Linked DNA regions of Homo sapiens: all the other regions are linked to region 3. Evidence: fine-mapped expression QTL. A gene starts in region 3. Each other region holds a variant in brackets. All regions are shown on one strand. Distances are from middle to middle.

Region 1 (7,378 bases), 89 kb before region 3:
TCCTTTGCCCCTTTATAATAGATTTTTTCCCCCAATTTAAAACATTAAGAATGGAACTTTCTAAAATGTTCATGTCCTGAGGGCCGGTTTAGGCCTTTTGTCTTCGGCACTTAGGATCCTAATGACAATAAATTATTTATGAAGAGTTATTGATTGAATTTAGTGGAATAGAGTAAAAGAGAACAAATGCTTCCCTCAAGATACAGAGAAAATGCATGAAACTTCCCTAGGTCTACCTGGTTACTATTCACAGGATCACTTTGGGTAGGTGAGTTTGTGCCAGAGGTTAGGGAATGGGGTCTTTCAAGACTCACTGTCCTGAGCCCTGCTCACCCAAGAGACCTCTTCCCCAGTTCCAGTTTGGCCCCAAATGGTTGCCTCTCCATAGACAAAATGTTTCCCACCTCTCTATCCCTTTAACTGTTTGACAGTAATGCAGATTCGTTTATCAGATTAACTGGAAGTCAATCCAGGTTGGCACCCCTGGAGAAGGCCTGGCCACCTGAGCTGCCTTCAACTAAAGGACTGATCTGTAATAGACACTTTAGCCTCATGTGGCCGTGGAGAACCAAAATGATCTATGGAAATGTAGGGAAACTCATTTTAGCTCACAACAAAGGAGTCACTTTTTACCTGTTAGAGATGTCCAATATTAGAATGGGCTACCTCATAAGGTAATGAGCCTTGTCACCCAAATGCTTTAAACAGAAGCCATCATCTGTCACATGCCAGAGGGTGCCCCTCAAGAGTGGGAGAGCAGGGGCTGAACTGCTGAGTTCCCGCTGCGTCCTGTTGCTATGCTGCCTGCACCCTTGGTGGGGAGAAGAGAAGAGGTGGACTGCTGCGGAGGACCTGGCAAACAAGGACCCAGGTCTTGAGGGGATGGGGGCTGATGGGGAAACCGTAGGGTGTGGGAATTTAAGGATTAGTGACATTAGTAACATCACTTCCTCTCAAATTGCGTTTACAGCCTTTACTCGACTGTCCCAAACATGGCCTGTTTTACAAAGCTGCTAAGAAGCACAGCTCCAAATCTGGAGCTGTGAGTGCCCGCCCTGACTCTGACTAGCTTACAGTGAAGCTTTGGGAAGTTGTTTTCCGCTGAGCTCTTATTTTCTCATCCAGAAAATGAGGGGGTAGGATTTGGTGAGTTATAAAGTGCCTTCTAGCTCTAGCAGTCTGTGACTGGCCCTGCTCTTTCTGAGCAGATCAGTGAGGCAATGACCCCAAAGCGGGGCTGCCCAGAATCACCACAGGCTTCCTTTGGCTCTCCACCTTGCCCCAACCCCTCTGGCCACTGCTGCCTGGGGGTCTTTCTCCAGCTTGCCACATTCTTGCTCAAGTGTAGTTTAGCACCATGGATGGACAGCAGATTTGAATTTGAAATCAGCCCTAACATTAACTAGCTGGGTGACTTTTAGTAACTTTCTTTCTTTGAGCCTTAGTTGCCTCATCTATAAAACCAGAGTTGGACAAATAGATCAGCTTTGCTGGGGTTGATAACTTCAGGCCCTTTCAGGAGTCAGGTCCCTGTTATTCCAGGGCTAGGGGAGCACTCCAGCTCAGAACGTTACTCTGTAGCACAGGATGCGAATCATCCACTGATACCGTGGCCATGCAACTCTGAAACAGACAGCAACCCCCAAACCCCCGGCCCTGCCACCAAGCACATCTCAGGAGACCTCCACTGGTATAATTTCCCTTGTCCCTAAGAATCTCCTTCCCCAATCCCTTTCCTTTGCAGTTAGAAAAAGGCAAGCAGGACTGAGTTTAGTGGTTTTAAAATTAGGGGTGTGGCCAGGCACAGTGTCTCATGCCTGTAATTCTAGCACTTTGGGAGGCCTAAGCAGGCGGATCACTTGAGCTTAGCAGTTCAAGACCACCATGGGCAACATGGCAAAATCCTGTCTCTACAAAAAAATACAAAAGTTAGCTGGTCATAGTGGTGTGCCTGTGGTCCCAGCTACTCAGGAGGCTAAGGGGGAGGATGGCTTGAGTCTGGGAGGCTGGGAGGTGGAGGTTGCAGTGAGCCGAGATAACACCACCACACTCCAGCCTAGGTGACAGAGCCAGACCCTCTCAAAATAATAGTAATAAATAATAATAAAGTTAGGGGTGATCAGGCCCTGAACAGGGAAATGTTCTGTCCAAGGTCACAGAGCAAAGAGAACCCAGGTGTCCACAACTCAGCCAAGAGTCTTGACCCCTGTGTCGTCAGCTGCACACACGCTGCACACTCCACCAGCTCCTAGGCTTCTCTCCACATCTGACTTATCGAGGCCTGGGCTGTGGGTAGCTTTTTGGACAGAAAGAAGCAGAAAGCAGCAGGAGCTGCTCTCCGAGGACCGCACCTCAAAGAGCAAGATCCCCCAGGTGGGATCGCTCTGAGGCTTCAGGCAGGGGAGGCTGGTTTGAAAGCCGATCTCCAAGAGGGCGTGGCTCCAAAATGCTGGCAAATAAAAGCCTGGAGAGCCAGCACCAAGCTGGAGACCAGCAGGAGGCACAGGAAAACTGCAAGCCGCTCTGTTCCTGGGCCTCGGAAGTGGTGAGCTCGCTGAGGCAGGAGGAGCTCTGGGGAGGGTCTGGGAATGTGGACGAGGGCCCTGCAGGCCAAGATGGGGCAGATGGAGGGAGGAAGATGTTTGCGCTCCAGATGGCGAAGAAAATTCCAGGGAAGGGAGAATCACTGCACAGAGGGCTGACACACAGGTCCTTTCCAGAGACAGCTGCTCACACTCACACCCATACACACACACACACACACACAAAGGCAGATACAGGGAAAAGGCAGCACCATTCAGGCACACCTCACCTGTCAGACCAGCCAGCCCTGGCTCACTCACCTGGAATGCAGTATTTAAAGAACTCGCCATCCCACCTGCACACCCACGTAGAGACATCTCCCCACTGTGTTTCAGATGCCTATGGCGTCCCCTCAAACCCTGGTCCTCTATCTGCTGGTCCTGGCAGTCACTGAAGCCTGGGGCCAGGAGGCAGTCATCCCAGGCTGCCACTTGCACCGTGAGTACCTCTGGGACCGGAGGGCTAGGAGCAGTGGAGGTTCTGGGTGGGAGCAAAGAGCTGAGTGGACGGTGGGGCAGGCAGCACCCTAAAGGGCCCCACACTGAGGCACAGGCAACGGGAGCTGGGGCGAGGCAAACCTTGGCAGAGGCGCCGTCTACTGCTTGCCTATCTCCTTCTAGCCTTCAATGTGACAGTGCGAAGTGACCGCCAAGGCACCTGCCAGGGCTCCCACGTGGCACAGGCCTGTGTGGGCCACTGTGAGTCCAGCGCCTTCCCTTCTCGGTACTCTGTGCTGGTGGCCAGTGGTTACCGACACAACATCACCTCCGTCTCTCAGTGCTGCACCATCAGTGGCCTGAAGAAGGTGAGGAGGGCCCGGGCCCGGTGGATGGACGCTGGGGTCGCGGGAAGACCAGAGAGATGGAGATCCTAGACAGCCCTGAGAAAGGGGACTGCAGCACGGACTCCCCTCTCCCGCAGGTCAAAGTACAGCTGCAGTGTGTGGGGAGCCGGAGGGAGGAGCTCGAGATCTTCACGGCCAGGGCCTGCCAGTGTGACATGTGTCGCCTCTCTCGCTACTAGCCCATCCTCTCCCCTCCTTCCTCCCCTGGGTCACAGGGCTTGACGTTCTGGTGGGGGAAACCTGTGTTCAAGATTCAAAAACTGGAAGGAGCTCCAGCCCTGATGGTTACTTGCTATGGAATTTTTTTAAATAAGGGGAGGGTTGTTCCAGCTTTGATCCTTTGTAAGATTTTGTGACTGTCACCTGAGAAGAGGGGAGTTTCTGCTTCTTCCCTGCCTCTGCCTGGCCCTTCTAAACCAATCTTTCATCATTTTACTTCCCTCTTTGCCCTTACCCCTAAATAAAGCAAGCAGTTCTTGAATTTCTCTCTTTATTAAGTCTACCCCCAGCCACGGAAAGAGGAGTAGACCATGATTACTGTGAACCCCCCCTTACCCCAGGACACTGTGAATCTCTTCTTGCCTGTGCCCTCCCCCTCCCCCTGCCCAATAAATAAAAAGGGGACAAGGAAGTACACAGCGAGGGAAGGGAGGAGTGTGCACCCAGGACAGTGTCTGTGTAGAGGGTGAGCTGGGCGAGAATAAATAGACCATGGACCCCATGGTGGGGATAAGGAAGGACCTCGCATTGGCCAAGGCAGGGGCAGGCGAGGCGCTGAGTGCCCTTGCCCAAGGCCAGGAGCAGAGGGTGGGAGCCCGCCTGCAGCTGGAGCCTAGCTTTGCGGGGCAGGGGAAGATCCCTGATGGCAGCTTCCTGGTCAAGCTTGCCCTTGTCAAGTCCTGCCACGAGGGGCTGAGCATTCTGTTGCCAAGACCACCATTGCCTCTCCTCGTCTCCCCCCAGTGAAAGCTGGGCTGGGCAGGGAGTCCTCAGAAGCCACTCTGGCAAGGCCAGGGGTAGGTGTGTTTCTCTCTGGGCCCCTGGACAGGAGAAGGGATAGAGGGACTGACAGCTCTGGGTTTAGCTTTTCCCCTTCTGAGGTGCTGTCTAGCTCTGACCCCCACTGGC[G/A]GCCACCTGGGGTGTAAGCCGCTGGAGGGGGGCCTCCTTGGCCCCCTGGGTCCCCTGTAGCCGGCGTAGCCGCAGCTCCTCCAGACCTTGCCATAACTCCTGACGCTCCTGGGCCTTCTGCTGCTCCCTGGGGAGAGAGGGTGAGGCAGCTCCCTTTCCTGGGGCCCCCCACAGTCCAGACTCCCTCACAGTCCAGACTCCCTCACTACCACCCCACCGGCAAAGGGAAGGCATGGAACCATTTTTGTTCTGTGACTCCATAAAAACCCTCTACTGAGGGAAGAGAGCAGAGGACAGACAGATCCCAGCCTGCAGTCACAGAGAAGATGACGGGTGGGGCCTGAGTGGTTCTGGCTTCTGTAGGAAGCTACAGGGAGTCAGAACAAGTCTGAGCTACTCGAAGAATGACGGGAGGATACAGGGGCAGACAGTCAGGCATAGGATGGCAGGAGCATGGACAGTCTTGCAGCATCTGATCAGACAGAGTTTGGGGTAGTCCTCGGGTTCCCTCCAGCCATGGGGGTCTGACTCCTCCCTGCTCTTCTCCCTTCCCCCACGCCCAGCCCCCAACACTCACTGCTGCTTTTCCAGCTTGTAGGAGGCTGTGAGCTCATCAAACAGCTTCCCATTCATCTCCATGAAGGTCTTGAGCACATTGTAGATCAGTGATACGATGGTTCTTGGCAGTGTCAAGGAGGGATGAGGAGATGAAACAGCTTTGGTTTGCCCACCTCTCCCTTTCCCTGCCCTTCACATACAGCATTCCACCTGAACACAAGCACTGCCCACTTTCCTGTCCTTTTCACCACCCCTGGGCCATCTTTTGATGCTTTCTCTGATATTCTCCAGCTAGGAGTAACCCTGGGGTCGGGTCTGGACTGGCTGGCCCTGGTCCCAGTTTCTGTGAGTTAGGTCATGGCCTGGCACTCACTGGTTCCAGTGCTCCTTGGAGACTTGGTAGAGGGTCCCAAACACAGCAGGCAGCACAGTGTGGCAGTTGTCCTCAATGAGGCTTAGGATATACTCATTGTTCCAGAAATACAGAGCCCGCTCTGCAACCTGGGGCAGACAAGATGGCAGAGTGATTAACTGGCAGTGGCTTCTCTCTGTGTGCAAGGTCTGGTGTCCATCACTACCTCAACGCCCAGGCCCCCTGACCTTCACACACCCCACCTTCAGGGCTTATCTGAGCCCTGGAGGAAGCAACAGTGTTGAAGGGAAAAGAGTTCTAGATACGGAATCCAATGCTGCGGGGTGAATCCTAACCACTACAGACTCTACTATGCCATGTGACCTTGGGAGAGGCATTTAACCTCCCAGCCTCAGTTTTCTCATCTGTAAAATGGGCTAATAATACCTATCTCAACAGGATGTTATAAGAATCAAATGAGATACTAGACTTTTAGGTGTTTAATGAACCGAAGTGCCAGAATCACTGTGAGGAAGACTTGACTTCCACTGGGTTATGGCCCATAAGAACGGGAGGAAGTCTGCACATGCTTGCAGCAGAACATGAGTTAGTTAGCTGGGTTGGTGCGGGGAAGCCTGGCTGCATCCCAAAGCGAGTCTAATGAAATCTAAGGCCACTAGCAAAAGGGGAAAAGTGATAACAGTCCTCCATCACATTCTGGATCACACTTCAGTTTACCAAACATGTTTACACTCACAATCTCTTCCATCCTTATCCCCACCCTGTGAAGAGGTTGTTGGCCCATTTTACAGCTGCGGAAGCTTAATCAGAATCAGAGTGGTGCAGTGATTTGCTCAAGGCCCCTCAGCCAGTGGAAGGCAGGTCCGAGGCTTCACCCTAGGTCTCCTGACCCTAAGTCCAGCATCTCCCCATTACCAGACCCGGGATTGGAGGAGAAACTGAGGGCAAAGGGAGCTTTATTAGGTCAGCTACCCAACCTTTCCAGGCCAGCCCTGCTCCCATCCCCGCCTGTCCTGCCTCATACCTGGAAATGGGGGCTGGAAACACAGCGAGCCACCTGCTTAAAAAGGGGCTCCTGGATCTTCACAAACTGGGAGGGCTCGATGACATCAAGAATCTCTTCCATCTCCCCCAGAAACATCACCTGGGTGGGTTGGGGAGGGGAGTAGGGACAGAGGGGCAGCAGCTCACATCTCCCCCTACACATACACACACCTGACTGCCTTCTAGAGGCCGAGCCCTCCCAGCCTCCCTCTGGCGGGCATCAAAGCCCTTCTTCATACCTCCTTCTGGGTGCAGGTTTTTGGCCAGTATTTGAGCAGCCCCCGGATCACCTGTGGGAGATGAGACAGGAGTCACGCCTGCAGAGGTGAGAGGCTGCCTTAGCCCCCAGAGGTACTCACGTGCTCTGTCAGAGTGGCATCCTTCTCCAGGAACTGCACCACACAGTATGCCAGCTGCAGGGGGTGACAGGTGGAGGGAAGGAAGACAGGTCAGGAAGGCACCAGGCGCCAAGGACTTGCTGTCCAGGACAGAATGCCAAATACTGCTCACCCACGGCCTGTTACTTTCTTATTCACCAAGCATTTATCACCTGCCTAGGATGTACCAGGCATCACATTCAGTGTGCTGGGAATACAACTCTGATCTCGCGGGGAGTGGGGACAGTCAACAAACTCATCTTTATAAATTTTGCAAAAGGTTCCATAATATGGCTAGTGTGGTGGCTCACGCCTGTAATCCAAGCACTTTGGGAGGCCGAGGCAGCAGAATCACTTGAGCCTGGGAGTTTGAGACCAGCCTAGGTAACATAGCAAGACACTGTCTCTACAAAAAAAAAATTTTTTTTAATTAGCCAGGCATGTGGCACATACATCTGTGGTCCCAGCTAC
Region 2 (7,469 bases), 670 kb before region 3:
GAAGGCTGGATATTATCCAGGCCTGCCCGCAGTCATCCAGAAGCCTAAACCCCTCCCTGTGGTGCTGTGCTTCAATGCTCACGCTCTTTGTCCACTTTCATGCTCCTCCCATACTCCTGGTTCGTCTTTGAAATTCGTAGTAGATAGAGGTAGAAGAAATAGTGAAAGTCTTAAAGTCTTTGATCTTTCTTATAAGAGCAGAGAAGAAAACGCTGACGTATGCTGCCTTCTCTCTCTGCTTCGGCTACCTAAAAGGGAAGGGCCCCCTATCCTGTAATCACCTGACCTGCTTCACCTTGTCAATCACTTAGAAGATTCACCCTCCTTACCCTGCCCCCTTGTCTTGTATACAATAAATATCAGCGAGCCCAGCCATTTGGGGCCACTACCGGTCTCCGCGTCTTGATGGTAGTGGTCCCTGGGGCCCAGCTGTTTTCTCTTTATCTCTTTGTCTTGTGTCTTTATTTATTACAATCTCTAGTCTCCACACAGGGGGAGAACACATGCTAAGCCCCGTAGGGCTGGACCCTACACATATGTTGAAACCCCGTCTCTACTAAAAACACAAAAATTAGCCAGGTGTGGTGGTGGGCACCTGTAATCCCAGCTACTGGGAAGGCTGAGGCAGGAGAATCGCTTGAATCTGGGAGGTGGAGGTTGCAGTGAGCCGAGATCGCACCACTGCACTCCAGCCTGGACGACAGAGCGAGACTCCATCTCAAAAAAAAAGTGGGAACTTGGATGGGCACGGTAGCTCACGCCTGTAATCCCAGCACTTTGGGAGGCCGAGGCGGATGGCTCACCTGAGGTCAGGAGTTCAAGACCAGCCTGGCCAACATGGTGAAACCCCGTCTCTACTAAAAATACAAAAATTAGCCAGGCGAGGCCAGGCGCAGTGGCTCACGCCTGTAATCCCAGCACTTTGGGAGGCCGAGGCGGGCGGATCACGAGGTCAGGAGATCGAGACCATCCTGGCTAACACAATGAAACCCCGTCTCTACTAAAAATACAAAAAAAATTAGCCGGGCGTGGTGGCAGGCGACTGTAGTCCCAGCTACTCCAGAGGCTGAGGCAGAAGAATGGCGTGAACCTGGGAGGCGGAGCTTGCAGTGAGCCAAGATCGCACCACTGCACTCCAGCCTGGGCAACAGAGCGAGACTCTGTCTCAAAAAAAAAAAAAAAAAAATTAGCCTGGCGTGGTGGCACATGCCTGTAATCCCAGCTACTCAGGAGGCTGAGGGAGAATTGCTTGAACCTGGGAGGCGGAGGTTGCAGTGAGCCAAGATTGCGCCATTGCACTCCAGCCTGGGGGACAAGAGTGAGACTTCGTCTCAAAAATAAATAAATAAATAAAATAATAAAATAAAATAGTGGGAACTTTAAGCTTAGCTAACAGGGATCCAAATTCTTCAAGAGAAAGTATTTGTTGTTCAGCCCACTGTAAGATATCAAGAGCTACTTGCTAATGGCCCACACTTATTTTGTTGATGACTTATCATAGGAAAACCTTTGGTGTTCTTTCTACTTTATCTTATATTATAACGCATGAAACAGAAAAGCTGCTGTAAACAATGCTGAATCTTATGTAACAGCCAAATTTAATTTTAGAAAGTATTTAAATTGTGCTCTGTCCTAGATCTAAATGTTGAGAATTTTAAAAAAAACAAACGTTTTAACATCTGCCAAAGCATGTAAGAATAACTTCAAGCTGCCGGGCTTGGTGGCTCACGCCTGTAATCCCACCACTTTGGAAGGCCGAGGTGGGTGGATCACGAGGTCAGGAGTTCGAGACCAGCCTGGCCAACGTACTGAAAGCCCGTCTCTACTAAAAATACAAAAATTAGCCGGGCGTGGTGGCATGCGCCTGTAATTCCAGCTACTCTGGAGGCTGAGGCAGGAGAATCGCTTGAACCCGGGAGGCGGAGGTTGCAGTGAGCCGAGATCACGCCACTGCACTCCAGCCTGGGACAGAGGGAGACTCCATCTCAAAAATAAAATAAAATAAAATAAACAATAATAACTCCAAAATTAACATTATTTTGACTTCCTATTATTGTCTTTCCAAAAAATGGCTCTGTGTTTTTTGTTTGTTTTGATTTTTACTTCTTTGTTTGGTTTGGTTTTTTTGTTTGTTTTGTTTTTAGCAAATATGATGCCTAAAAAGTAAACTGTTCAGGGTTCTGGCCTATTGTGGTCGGCAGAATACTAGCCCCTCAAAGATGTCCATGTCCTAACTCTCAGAACCTGTGAATATGGGCCAGGTGCAGTGGCTCACACCTGTAATCCCAGCACTTTGGGAGGCCAAGGCGGGCGGATCACATGAGGTCAAAAGTTTGAGATCAGCCTGGCCATCATGATGAAACCCCTTCTCTACTAAAAATACAAAATTAGCCAGGCATGGTGGCACACACCTATAGTCCCAGCTGCTTGGGAGGCTGAGGCAAGAGAATAGCTTGAACCCTGTAGGTGGAGGTTGCAATGAGCCGATATCATGCCACTGCACTCCAGCCTGGGCGACAGAGTGAGACTCTGTCTCAAAAAAAAATTAAAAACCTACTTACAAAGAAAAGTCTAGGCCCAGATGACTAGTAACTTCTTCACTACTAACTTCTACCAAACATTTAAAGAATTAATACCAATTCTTCACAAACACTTCCAAAAAATGGAAGAGGAAGAGGGAATACTTCCCAACTCATTCTATTAGGCTGGTATCAATAGTACCCTGATAACAAAACCAGATAAAGACATCACAAGAAACTACAGAGCAGGCCAGGCGCAGTGGCTAACACCTGTA[A/G]TCCCATCACTTTGGGAGGCCAAGGCAGGTGGATCACAAGGTCTGGAGATCCAGACCATCCTGGCTAACACGGTGAAACCCTGTCTCTACTAAAAATACAAAAAAAAAAAAAAAAAAAAAAAAAAAATTAGCCAGGCTTGCCTGTAATCCCAGCTACTCAGGAGGCTGAGTCAGGAGAATTCTAGCCGGTGCAGTGGCTCACACCTATAGTCCCAGCACTTGGGAGGCTGAGGTGGTTAGCTTGCTTGAGGCCAGGAGTTTGAGGTCAGCCTAGACAACATAGCAAGACTCAGTCTCTACGAAAAAAATTAGCCCAGCATGGTGGCACATGCTTGTAGTCCCAGCTACTCAGGAGGCTAAGGCAGGAGGATTGCTTGAGCCCACCCAAGAGGTTGAGGTTGCAGTGAGCCGTGAGACATGAGCCATGATTGCGGCACTGCACTCTAGTCTAGGCAACAGAGCAGGAACCTGTGTTTAAAAAAAAAAAAAAAAAAAAAAAAGGCTGGGCGCGGTGGCTCATGCCTGTAATCTTAGCACTTTGGGAGGCCAAGGCAGGCAGATCACCTGAGGTTGGGAGTTCAAGACCAGCCTGACCAACATGGAGAAACCCCGTCTCTATTAAAAATACAAAATTAGCCGGGCATGGTGGCACATGCCTGTAATCCCAGCTACTCGGGAAGGCTGAGGCAGGAGAATTGCTTGAACCTGGGAGGCGGAGGTTGCGGTGAGCTGAGATCGCTCCATTGTACTCCAGCCTGGGCAACAAGAGCAAAACTCTGTCTTAAAAAAAAAAAAAGAAAAGGAAAATTCTATATCATGATTAAATAGGATTTATCCTAGGAATACAAGGTTGGTTTAACATCTGAAAATTAATTAATGTAATACATACTATTAATAGAATAAAAAGCAAAACAAAAAAATACCTGATCATCTCAATAGAAGCAGAAAAAGCAATTAACAAAATCCACCAGTCTTTCCTTTTTTTTTCAGACAGAGTCTCACCTTGTCACCCAGGCTGGAGTGCAGTAGCGCGATCTCAGCTCACTGCAACCTTCACCTCCCGGGTTCAAGCGATTCTCCTGCCTCAGCCTCCCGAGTAGCTGGGATTACAGGCATTCACCACCATACCCAGCTAATTTTTGTATTTTTAGTATAGACGGGGATTCGCCATGTTGGCCAGGCTGGTCTTGAACTCCTGACCTCAGGTAATCTGCTGGCCTTGGCCTCCCAAAGTGCTGGGATTACAGGTATGAGCCACCGGGCCCGGGCCAATCCACCAGTCTTTCACGGTAAAAAGAAAAAAGAAACCAGCCAGGCATGGTGGCACATTCCTGTAGTCTGAACTGGGGCGTGAAGGTCACCTGAACCTGGCCAGGCACAGTGGCTCACACCTGTAATCCCAGCACTTTGGGAAGCCAAAGTGGGCAGAACACATGAGGTCAGGAGTTCAAGAGCAACCAACATGGAGAAACCCCACCTCTACTTAATAAAAAAAAAAAAAATTAGCCAGGCATGGTGGCATGTGCCTGTAATCCCAGCTACTCGGGAAGCTGAGGCAGGACAATCACTTGAACCTGGGAGGCGAGGTTGCAGTGAGTCGAGATCGTGCCATTGCACTCCAGTATGGGCTACAGAGTGAGTCGTCAGGTAAAAAAAAAAAAAAAAAAAAAAAGAATGTTTTCAGATTGTTCGCTGCTATAGTGATTTTTGTATGTTGATCTTGCATCCTACAACCTTGCTGAACTCATTAATTTTAATAGCTTTCAAAGACTCCATAGGATTTTCTGTATACAAGATTATGTCATCTGTGAAGTTTTACTTAGGTGAGCCACCACGTCTGGCTCCATTTTTAATAACATAAAGAAAGAATAAATTACTAGGAATAAATCTAAGAAAAGAAGTTCAGGCCAGGTGCAGCGGCTTATGCCTATAACCCTGGCACTTTGGAGGGCCAAGGCAGGAGAATGGCTTGAGCCCAGGAGTTCAGGACCAGCCTGGGCAATACAGTGAGATCCTATCTCTAAAAAAAAAAAAAAAAAAAAAAAATTAAAAATCAGCTAGTTGTGGTGGTGCATGCCTAAAGTCCCATTTCCTTGGGAGGCCGAGGCAGGTGTATTGCTCGAGTCCAGTAGTTCAGGCTGCAGTGAGCTATGATTACGGTACTGCATTCCAGCCTGGGCAACAGAGCAAGCCATTCCAGATCCTGTCTCAAAACAAAACAAAACTGGCCGGGTGAGGTGGCTCACACCTGTAATCCCAGCACTTTGGGAGGCTGAGGCAGGCAGATCACATGAGGTCAGGAGTTTGAGACCAGCCTGGCCAACACGGCGAAACCTCGTCTCTACTAATAATACAAAAATGAGCTGTGCGTGGTGGCAAGGTGCCTGTAATCCCAGCTACTCAGGAGGCTGAGGCAGGAGAATCGCTTGAACCTGGGAGGCTGATGTTGTGGTGAGCCAAGATCGCGCCACTGCACTCCAGCCTGGGCAACAGAGCCAGACTCTGCCTCAAACAAAACAAAACAAAACAATAACTTTTTAAACATAAAGACATCTTCAAGTGGCAACCACTACCTAAATGCCATTCCCAGCTAAGCTGTCATGAAAACTGAGAGCAAAATAAAGATATTTCAAACAAAGACTCTCAGAATTTCCCACTCAGAAATCAGTTACACCCCCATCGTGGCCCAGACCCCCGCGCAGCCCAGCCTCCTCAAACTGCACGTGGCTAGAACTGAGTGTGATCATCCCCCACCTTGCAGCCAGAATCATCAGTCTCACCATCTGTTCCCCAGGGGCAAGCCCCTAACTCATCTGCTGTCCTAGGGCCTAACTACCCTCCAACCTACCCCAGCTTCTCTCTCTCTCTCTCTCCTCTCTCTCTCTCTCTGTCTCTCTCTCTTTCCTTTCTGTCTCTCTCCTCTCTCTGTCTCTCTCTCTCCTTTCTGTCTCCTCTCTCTCTCTCCTTTCTGTCTCTCTCTCCTCTCTCTCTGTCTCTCTCCTCTGTCTCTCTACTCTCACTCCTCTCTCTCTCCATCTCTCTCTCTCCTTTCTCTCTGCTCTCTCTCTGTCTCTCTCCTGTCTCTCTCCTTGGTCTCTCTCCTCTCTGTCTCTCTTTCTCCTCTCTCTCTCTTTTATCTCTCTCCTATGTCTCTCTCCTCTCTGTCTCTCTCTACTCTCTCTCCTCTCTGTCTTTCCTCTCTCTGTTTCTCTGTCTCCTTTCTCTCTCTCCTCTCTCTGCCTCTCTCTCTCTCTCTGTCGCTCCTCCTCCCCTCCCCTCCCCTCCCCTCCTCTCTCCTCTCCTCTCTCCCCTTCTCCAACTCCTCTCTCAGCCTCCCTTCCAGCCACTCTGGGTTGCAGTGCCCCACATTTCTCACTTTCAAGCTGTTCTCTCTGGAGGAAGGCTGCCCTGGTCTTTTCTATCCAGCAAATTCGTATTCTTTGAATCTCACTCCAAATGTCCCCTGCTCTGTCTAGCCTTCCCTGAATTATTCAGGCAGAAAGCATTGCTTCTAGCCTGGCAAGATGGCTCACACCTGTAATCCTGGCACTTTGGAAGGCTGAGGTGGGAGGATCGCTTGAGCTCAGGAGTTCAAGACCAGCCTCGGCCATAGAGTAGGACCCTCATCTCAACAAAATATCAAAAAATTAGCCAGGCATGGAGGTGTGCACCTGTAGTCCCAGCTACTTTGGAGGCCGAGGAAGAAGGATTGCTTGAGCCCAGGAGGTTGAGGCTGCAGTAAGCCATGATTCAACCACTGCACTCCAGCCTGAGCAACAGGGTGAGACCTTGTCTCAAAATAAAGAAATAAAAATAAATTAATTTAATTAATTTGTTAAAAAGCATTGCTTCTGTGCTTTTCCAGTGCACTTCACAAGAAATGCTCTCAGAGACCAGGCACGGTGGCTCATGCCTGTAATCCCAGCACTTTGGGAAGCTGAGGAAGGAGGATTGCTTGAGCCCAGGAGTTTGAGGCCAGCCTGGGCAACATAGCAAGACCTTGTCTCTATAAAAAAAAAAAAATGCTCTTGGCCATGTGCAGTGGCTCACACCTGTAATCCCAGCACTTTGGGAGGCCAGGGGAGGTGGATAACTTGAGGTCAGGAGTTCGTGACCAGCCTGACCAACAGGGTGAAACCCCGTCTCTACTAAAAATACAAAGATTTGTATATAAATTGAATCATGCAGTATGTATTAATGGCAAAAACTGCAATTACTTTTTTTTGAGACGGAGTCTCACTCTGTCACCCAGGCTTGAGTGCAGGGGTGCAATCATGGCTCACTGCAACCTCTGTCTCCCGGGTTCAAGCGATTCTCATGTCTCAGCCTCCCCGGTAGCTGGGATTGCAGGTGTTTACCACCACACTCGGCTAATTTTTGTATTTTTAGTAGAGACGGGGCTTCACCACGTTGGTCAGGCTGGTCTTGAACTCCTGACCTCAGGTGATCCACTTGCTTTGGCCTCCCAAAGTGCTGGGATTATAGGCGTGAGCTGCCACACCCAGCCTGCAATTACTTTTGCACTAAACTAATAGTTTTTAAAAACTGGTTTCTTTAATCTCAACATCTTTTGAAATTCTTATGTATTACGGGTGTATCAGTAGTTTGTTCAAGATTTAAAACCTTGAGACACTATGAGCAAAGCTCACCCCCCGCCCTCCTCCAGCATAAAAAT
Region 3 (7,469 bases):
AGGGCAGGGGGCGGCCGCCATTCCTGCCAGCCCTGAAGAACCATCTGGTGGGAGCTGCTTCCCGAGGCCACGGCTGGAGACTCTCATCCTAGGCCTTCCCCTGAAGGCTGATTCTCAGGACTTTGAGGAAGGGGGCGCTCCAACCCTGGGCTCAGCAGCCCTCCAATGTGGCCAGGATGCCACAGACCTGGGCAACCTGCCTTGTGTCTGGGCTCCCAGCCACAGAGGGCTATGCCCTTGGGGGCAGACACAGGGTTCCCTGCCACTTCCTCATGCTGGGTTCTCAGGTCCTCTCCCTGCCCCAACACACCTGCCCTCTGCAGGGCGAGTCTGCACTCAAGGAAGGAGCTCAAGGCTGGCACCACCTCCCTCCCCAGCTTCCATGCATTAGTCTATAAAGGAGGGTAATAACTCTCTCCTAGTGTGGCCCTTGTGAAGATAATAGATCTAAAGTCACTTTAAGTTACCAAGAGGCCCCTTACACTTGCAAGCTGTTATCAGCATGAGTGCTCCCCACAGAGCTGGGTGAGAGAGCTAGTGATGTCCCTCAGTACCAAGGGGCTTGCGGGATGAGTGAGAGGCTGCGGGGGGTAGCTGAGCCCTCCTGCACCTGGGGAGTAGTCGACCATGGAGGAGGCATTTGAATGAAGGTACCCTGGTGAGAAGGAAAGGAAAGAGGGTGGCCTGACTGCCTGGACAGGGTGTGACTGAGGCTCTCGGGGGTGTCTCCTGTCAAGACTCACCCATCCCTGTGAGCTGGGCCTTGGGCTGTGCCATGCTCAGGGCTCTGTGGGGAGCGTGTCAAGGCTGCTGTGGCCCTAGTGGTCTGGCCCCACAGGATCAGAAAACAGATCTGCTGAGCCAACATGGTGCCATGCCCTGGAGCTGCTTCGGGCAGTCAGGGCTGGAGGCCTGGCTGCTTGCTAAGGCTGGAATAAGCTCAGAAAGAGACTGAGCCTTTACAGACTTCCTTCCATTGGAGCTGCAAAGGAATGAGCAGGGGGCCCAACCCTCCCCCTTTATTTTTATTTATTTATTTATTTTGGAGACATGGTCTCATTCTGTCACCTAGGCTGGAGTGCAGTGGCACAATCTCAGCTCACTGCAAGCTCTGCCTCCCAGGTTCAAGTGATTCTCCTTTCTCAGCCTCCCGAGTAGCTGGGACTGCAGGTGTGTGTCACCATTCCAGGCTAATTTTTGTATTTTTAGTAGAGACAGGGTTTTGCCATGTTGACCAGGCTGGTCTTGAATTCCTGGGCTCAAGTGATCCGCCCACCTTGGCCTCCCGAGTAGCTGGAACTACAGGCTCTCACCACCACACTCAGCTAATTTTTAAGTTCGTTTGTAGAGATGAGGTCTCACTATGTCACCCAGGCTGATCTTGAACTTCTGGGCTCAAGTGATCCTCCCACCTCGGCCTCCCAAAATGCTGGGCTTACAGGCATGAGCCACCATGCCCGGACCCAACCCCCTTTTACAGACAAGGAAATTGAGGCTTACAAGACAGATGTGACAAAAACTAATAAAGGACCAGAAAGAATCACGTGTGAGAGGCGGGAGGTGCCGAATGCCAGTCCCAGCCCTGCCCCGTGCAGCCCTGGCCTCAGCCCTGGGACTCAGTGTCCACTCAGCTATACTGTGTGGGGATGGACAGATGGCTGGGGATGAACCTTTCTGAGAACTTACCAGAGAGGTTAAGGGACTTGCCTGAGGTCACACAGGGAGTGAGGCAGGGCCCAGAGGCCTCACCAGGGGTGTCCACGAGGGGCAGCGGAGGAGAGGCCCATCTTCCCACCCAGGAGCCCTTCCCTATCTCCGGTTCCCTAATGCTGGCTGGAGCGCCTGTCCCTCCTCTGGTCTCTGGCGCCCCCGTGTGGCCTCAGTGAGCAAGCCCCTTCCTACCTCCTGTGGGCTCCACCCCTGCCCCGCCCCTATAAGGAGGGCTCAGAATCTCTCAGGTGAGAGGGATCTGAACTCCTGCCCCCTCCCCCTTCCAGGAGACCAGAGGCAATGAAGGGGATCCCCAGAGTTTGGTTTGAATCCTGGCTCCCCATCCCATTCTGGTTGATTTAGGTAATACACCCAGACTCTGTTTCCCCAAACATTTCTCAGCCCATGGGCCCTGCGTAGCTACAGGGCGGGCCTCTGGGGAGATCACATGGGAGGCAGGGCGAGTCTGAGACCAGCCCCGGGCAATGTAGAGAGACCCCAGCTCTAAAAAAAAAATTAAAAATTAACCAGGCGTGGTGGTGCAGGCTTGCGGTCCCAGCTACTCAGGAGGCTGAGGTGGGAGGATCACTTGAGCCCAGTATGTTGAGGCTGCAGTGAGCTGAGATTGCATCACTGCACTCCAGCCTGGGTGACAGAGCAAGACCCTGTCTCAAAAAAAGGCTGGGTATGGTGGCTCATGCCTGTAATCCCAGCACTTTGGGAGGCCGAGGTGGGCGGATCACCTGAGGTCAGACCAGCTTGGCCAACGTGGCAATATAGTGCAACCCTGTCTCTTTAAAATAAATAAATAAATAAACAAATAATCACATGAAAAACCCTTCGTGGGGAGAAACACCCTGTTTGCTTCAAACATTCATGGAACACCTCCTCCCTCAACCTGATCCTGCCCCCATCTCAGCGAGGTCCCAGTACGAGAGGAGAGGCAAACCCCTAAACAGGTCTTTTAATGAAATAATGTGTTGGCCAGTGGCTACAGCCTGTAATCCCAGCGCTTTGGGAGGCTGAGGCAGGCAGATCACTTGAGTCCAGGAGTTTGAGATCAGCCTAGGCAACATGGCGAAACCCCATCTCTATAAAAAATACAAACATGGCTGGGCCCAGTGACTCACGCATGTAATCCCAGCACTTTGGGAGGCCGAGGCAGAAGGATCACCTGAAGTCAGGAGTTTGAGATCAGCCTGGCCAACATGGCAAAACCCTATCTCTACTAAAAATACAAAAATTAGCTGGGTGTGGTGGCACATGCCTATAATCCCAGCTACTTGGGAGGCTGAGGCAGGAGACTCTCTTGAACCTGGGAGGCAGAGGTTGCAGTGAGCCGAGATCGTGCCACTGCACTCTGGCCTGGGTGACAGCGTGAGACACCATCTCAAAAAACAAAACATCAGCCTGGCCTAGTGGTGTGAGCCTGTAGTCTCAGCTATTCGGGAGGCTGAGGTGGGAGGATCACTTGAACCCAGGAGGTTGAGGCTGTGGTGAGCTACGATTGCACCACTGCACTCCAGCCTAGGGGACAGAGTGAGACCCTGTCTCAAAAAAGAGAAAGAAGTGTTGTCTAGGCCGGGTGTAGTTGCCCATGTCTGTAATCCCAGAACTCCGGGAGGCCAAGGTGGGAGGATTACCTGAGCCCAGGAGTTCGAGACCAGCCTGGTCAACATAACAATAACCCTTGACTCCAAAAAGTAAAATAAAAAATCAGCTGGGTGTGGTGGCATCTGCCTGTAATCCCAGCTACTCAAGAGGCTGAGGCAGGAGCCTAAGAGGTCAAGGCTGCAGTGAGTTATGATTGCATCACTGCACTCCAGCATGGGTGACAGAGAGACCCTGTCTCAAAAAAAAAAAAAAAAAAGTGTTGTCTGAAGCCACCAATATGTCCCACCCTTTGATCTCTCCTCATGGTGCCTGGTCCATCCCAGCTGGACAGAAATCAGAAATACCACTGGACAGAGCCAGCCCCTCCCCTCCCCAACCTCCTCCAGCCTATCTCAGACCTCTCCTTGCCCTTCACGTTCCAGGTCAGACCTCAGGCCCTGCTCCTACTGAAGCTTAAAACGCCTGTGGTGTTGGTACCAGCCCAGCTCCACCTCCACCCCAGGGTCTAACTTAAGAGCCACCTTGTCCTCAGCCCCTCAATTCGCCTTCCTCCTTCCCAAGCCTCAGTGTGTCCATCTGCCAAATGGGCGTGACCATCCCTACCCCAACTTCCTGTCTCCCACATCAACTCTAATGATACAATCAAAGTAAGATTCAGAAACTTTTTTTTGGGCGGGGGCGGGGGGGCGATGGGTGCCAAGCGCGGGCAAACCATGGAGAGAGCGAACTACAATTCCCATCCGGCTCCGGGGCCGCGGGCGTCCCTAGCCCCTCTCTCTTAGCCAAGGGCAAGGCGGCTGCGACCCAGGGGGCGAGAGAAGTTGCAGTGCTCCGCGCCTCCTGGGTCAGGGCCCAGGGAGGGCCCAGGTAAGTCTGGGTCTGGGGCCGCGCGGGGATCTGGGGAGTCTTTCCGACCCCGCAGAACCCCACCGCGCCCCGCGCAGAAGTCAGTTGTTCTCCCCGGCCCGCCCCCGCACTTCCTGGCCGGGAGTTGGGCCCGCCCCCGCGCGCCTCCGCCCCCACCTTCACCTCTAGCCGCGGCTCCCATTGGCCGGCGCGCACCTGCCCGTCCGTCGGGGGGCGGGGCGCGGCGCCCAGGTGAGGGCGCGCTGGCGGCGGCGGAGGAAGGTGACAGCGGGGAGGGCGGGAGAGGGGCGGGGGAGGACGCGCGGACAGAGCCTCAGACGGTTGGGCGGACGGACGGCCCGACAGGCGGGCATGCGGGCGGCCAGACTGTAGCCGAGCAGCGAGGCTCCGGCCGCAGCCATGGAGCGGCGGCTGCGCGCGCTGGAGCAGCTGGCGCGGGGCGAGGCCGGCGGCTGCCCGGGGCTCGACGGCCTCCTAGATCTGCTGCTGGCGCTGCACCACGAGCTCAGCAGCGGCCCCCTACGGCGGGAGCGCAGCGTGGCGCAGTTCCTGAGCTGGGGTGAGTGGCGGGGCGGCACGGAGCGGGGGCGGGCCTAGGGATATCGCGCCGAGACCCCCGCACCCGCAGACTTTCCCGCAGGGACCCGCACCCCCACGGGCTTCCCTCGCAGACTCCCTGCAGTGGCCCTGACGCGTACCACCGGACCCCCGCGGCCCGCACACTCGCCTGCACACCTCACCCTCACTCCAATTCTCACACACGCTCTCTCCCTCTCACAGACCCCGACACATGCACACACATACCAACTTGTGCTCAGGTATCGACCGCAGACGCATGTACCCAGTGCACCGCCTAGAGTCCCTTACAGATTTCCTTGCTTACAGGCCACACCTGACGCAGGACACACACAGACCCTCATGCATGTCACCCACTGATACACGGGCTCTGTTTCTCCTTCCTCTCGGATGCATTGAGACACACAACTCATGGAGAGACCCAGGGAGCGCTGCAGACCACCCCGACCGCATTGGCACTGCAAAACACACAGATCTGTAGGTATCGCACACTTGCAGACCTTCCCCCCACCAACACACACACCCCCAGCTCCCTGGGTACAAGACCACTGCAGCCTGGACTCAGGAACCGATCTCCAACCCTTGGCCTGTGCAGGCTGCTGGCCAAGCTCCTTGGGGGCTGTGGCGCCGGGGCCGGGGAGGGGGGCCTAGCTGGAGATGGGTCTGTACCTTTCCTGGTAGACTCATCTGAGTCATTGGGAGTGGCTGGCCCGGGGTGACCCTGAACCCACTGTGGGCACTGGCGCCAGCTGGAGGGTTCCCTGGTCACACCCTGCCGGGCCATGGGGAAAAGGCACGGGGGCCTGGCCAGGGCGGGGTGAGGCAGGTGTTTGCCCAGTGGGCAACTAGCGTTCCTGGCACTCCTGAGCTCTGGGAAGGCACAAGGCCTGGGGTAGAGGGGGAGGCTGCCACCTAGATGTGCCAGGGAGTTGTCCCCTAGCCCCAACCCTTCCATCCAGGGCGAGGCAGTCAGAGGCCCCTGCCTCTGTGCCTGTCTCCCTGGTATGCCTCCGTGCTATGCCTGTCTGCCTGTGTTGTTGTCACCCCCCCCATGACACCCACACACGTGTGTGTGTTTGCACACACATGTGTGCTCCTCCCTGACTGCCTCCAGCACCTCTGCCTGGGACCCCGGCATGGGGGCCCTCTGTTGACAATCTCCCAAGGTAACTCAAAGGGCTGTGACTCATTCCTCTCCTGCTTGTCTCTACTTGTCCCTGCTCCTGCCCGGAGCCCCCATGCCCTGTGGGAGGCCAGAGGATTAGGCAGCCTGTCCAGGGGCCTGGATCCTCCTGCCTGTGGGCCTGGGCTTCGGCCCTCTTCTGGCGGGTGGGTCCCTATGGTGCTGGCTTCAACTCCCACGGGGAGGCCCGGGGCTGCTCCTCCCCAGCTCCACACACAGACCTGGGAAAGAGACAATGAATTTCTGTAATGAGGTTTCCACCCCGCCCCCGCTGCGGGCTTCTGCCTGATAAACCTGTGGAACAGCTCTCTGTCCCACCCACAGACCCGCCCAGCTGGCAGGGAGTTTACCTCCTGGCAGGGGGAAACTGAGGCAGGGCGCCAGACCACAGCTGCCCCCCATCCTGACTGATCACTCCTGCCTCCCTAAGACCCAATTCCTTCCCAAAACCTGGGGCTAATCCAGGCCTGGAAAGTGCCTGGGAGTGGCTGGAGTTGCCCTTCCTGGAGGTATCTGGGATGTGAGGAAAGAGGACGTTCTTGACCAGACAAAAGCTTCGTCCAGACAGGGAGGCAGGGCTGGGAGTGAGAGAGCCGGTCAGGCCTGGAGGCATCCTGAGCACTCACGCCTTCAGGGGCTAGTGCTAGCACCAGGGAAAGGCATCTTTGTCCTGTTTGTGAGTCTCAGCACCTTGGCAGACTGGCATCCATGCCTCCAGCCTGAGGGGCCCCACGTGGGAAGCATAGAGCCTGTCCTCCCTGCCCTAGGGGCTGCAGGCCTCACCCCCAACCAGGCACCTCTATGCCTACAGGGTCCCGGGACCCAGGCCCACAGCTCCTGAATGGGAGAGAAGCCTCTCTGGGGATAAGGAATGTCACCCGTCCAGTTTCCTAAGACAGGCCCTGGCCTGAACCTGTGAGGGGGCCAAGAACTGTGAGGTGGGGGTAGGAATGGTGTCCCCATGGTCCCCAGGGTGACCTGGCCAAGCAGAGTCAGGCCGCAGACTGGGCAGGACTACAAGTCCCATCAGCCCCTGGGATGGAGGCTGCCTAGAGTCTGGGGCCAGGGGTCCAGGGAGGTCCAGGGACCAGGCGGTCAGCTGAGCCCGGCCTCTGACCTTCCGCACTTCCTGATCATGGCCAAAGGAGCACCAGTTCCTGCCACAACCCCTTGGCCCGAGGCTGTCCCTGGGGAGGTCATCCCTGCCTGGGCTCACAGGAGCGGCAGCTCCTGGCTTGCCCAAGGTGAGAGGGGGAATGGAGCCCTCCCTCCCTGCACTCTGAGTCCCGCCCTGTGTCCCCTCAGCCAGCCCCTTCGTATCAAAGGTGAAAGAACTGCGTCTGCAGAGAGATGACTTTGAGATCTTGAAGGTGATCGGCCGAGGAGCCTTTGGGGAGGTGAGCAAAGGGCCTGGGGTAGGTGGGGGGAGGTGTTCACACCGGGCTGGGCTCACCCCGGTCCTCCCTGTGGCCTTAGGTCACCGTGGTGAGGCAGAGGGACACTGGGCAGATTTTTGCCA

The links. PIP is the estimated chance that this variant, and not a neighbour inherited with it, causes the effect. A credible set is the group of variants that fine-mapping cannot tell apart.
Region 1: its variant is the best candidate, but not a certain one, in a credible set for the expression of CDC42BPG in whole blood (INTERVAL, PIP 0.79).
Region 2: its variant is the best candidate, but not a certain one, in a credible set for the expression of CDC42BPG in whole blood (TOPMed, PIP 0.65).

The regions. Positions count from the first base shown.
Region 1 is chr11:64,931,001-64,938,378 of GRCh38, reverse strand. It overlaps PPP2R5B (protein phosphatase 2 regulatory subunit B'beta), which reads right to left. Exons shown (of 14, transcript NM_006244.4): 9 at 6,890-6,943; 10 at 6,770-6,820; 11 at 6,511-6,630; 12 at 5,487-5,614; 13 at 5,133-5,234; 14 at 3,904-4,682. The coding sequence ends at 4,535. GPHA2 (glycoprotein hormone subunit alpha 2) reads left to right here and starts at 2,486. Exons shown (of 4, transcript NM_130769.4): 1 at 2,486-2,545; 2 at 2,919-3,021; 3 at 3,204-3,388; 4 at 3,505-3,908. The coding sequence starts at 2,919. The coding sequence ends at 3,606. MAJIN (membrane anchored junction protein) reads left to right here. Exons shown (of 11, transcript NM_001037225.3): 11 at 1-149. The variant G/A (reference allele first, on the strand shown) is at 4,556.
Region 2 is chr11:65,514,883-65,522,351 of GRCh38, reverse strand. It overlaps the pseudogene SNRPGP19. Among named protein-coding and RNA genes, the nearest start is that of SCYL1, 6.5 kb to the left of the region's middle. The variant A/G (reference allele first, on the strand shown) is at 2,795.
Region 3 is chr11:64,841,691-64,849,159 of GRCh38, reverse strand. CDC42BPG (CDC42 binding protein kinase gamma) reads left to right here and starts at 4,507. Exons shown (of 37, transcript NM_017525.3): 1 at 4,507-4,750; 2 at 7,256-7,347; 3 at 7,427-7,469. The coding sequence starts at 4,591. RefSeq lists enhancers at 1,552-1,621, 5,032-5,844, 5,869-6,163, 6,657-7,469 and silencers at 1,922-2,011, 4,328-4,677, 4,688-4,737, 4,768-4,817.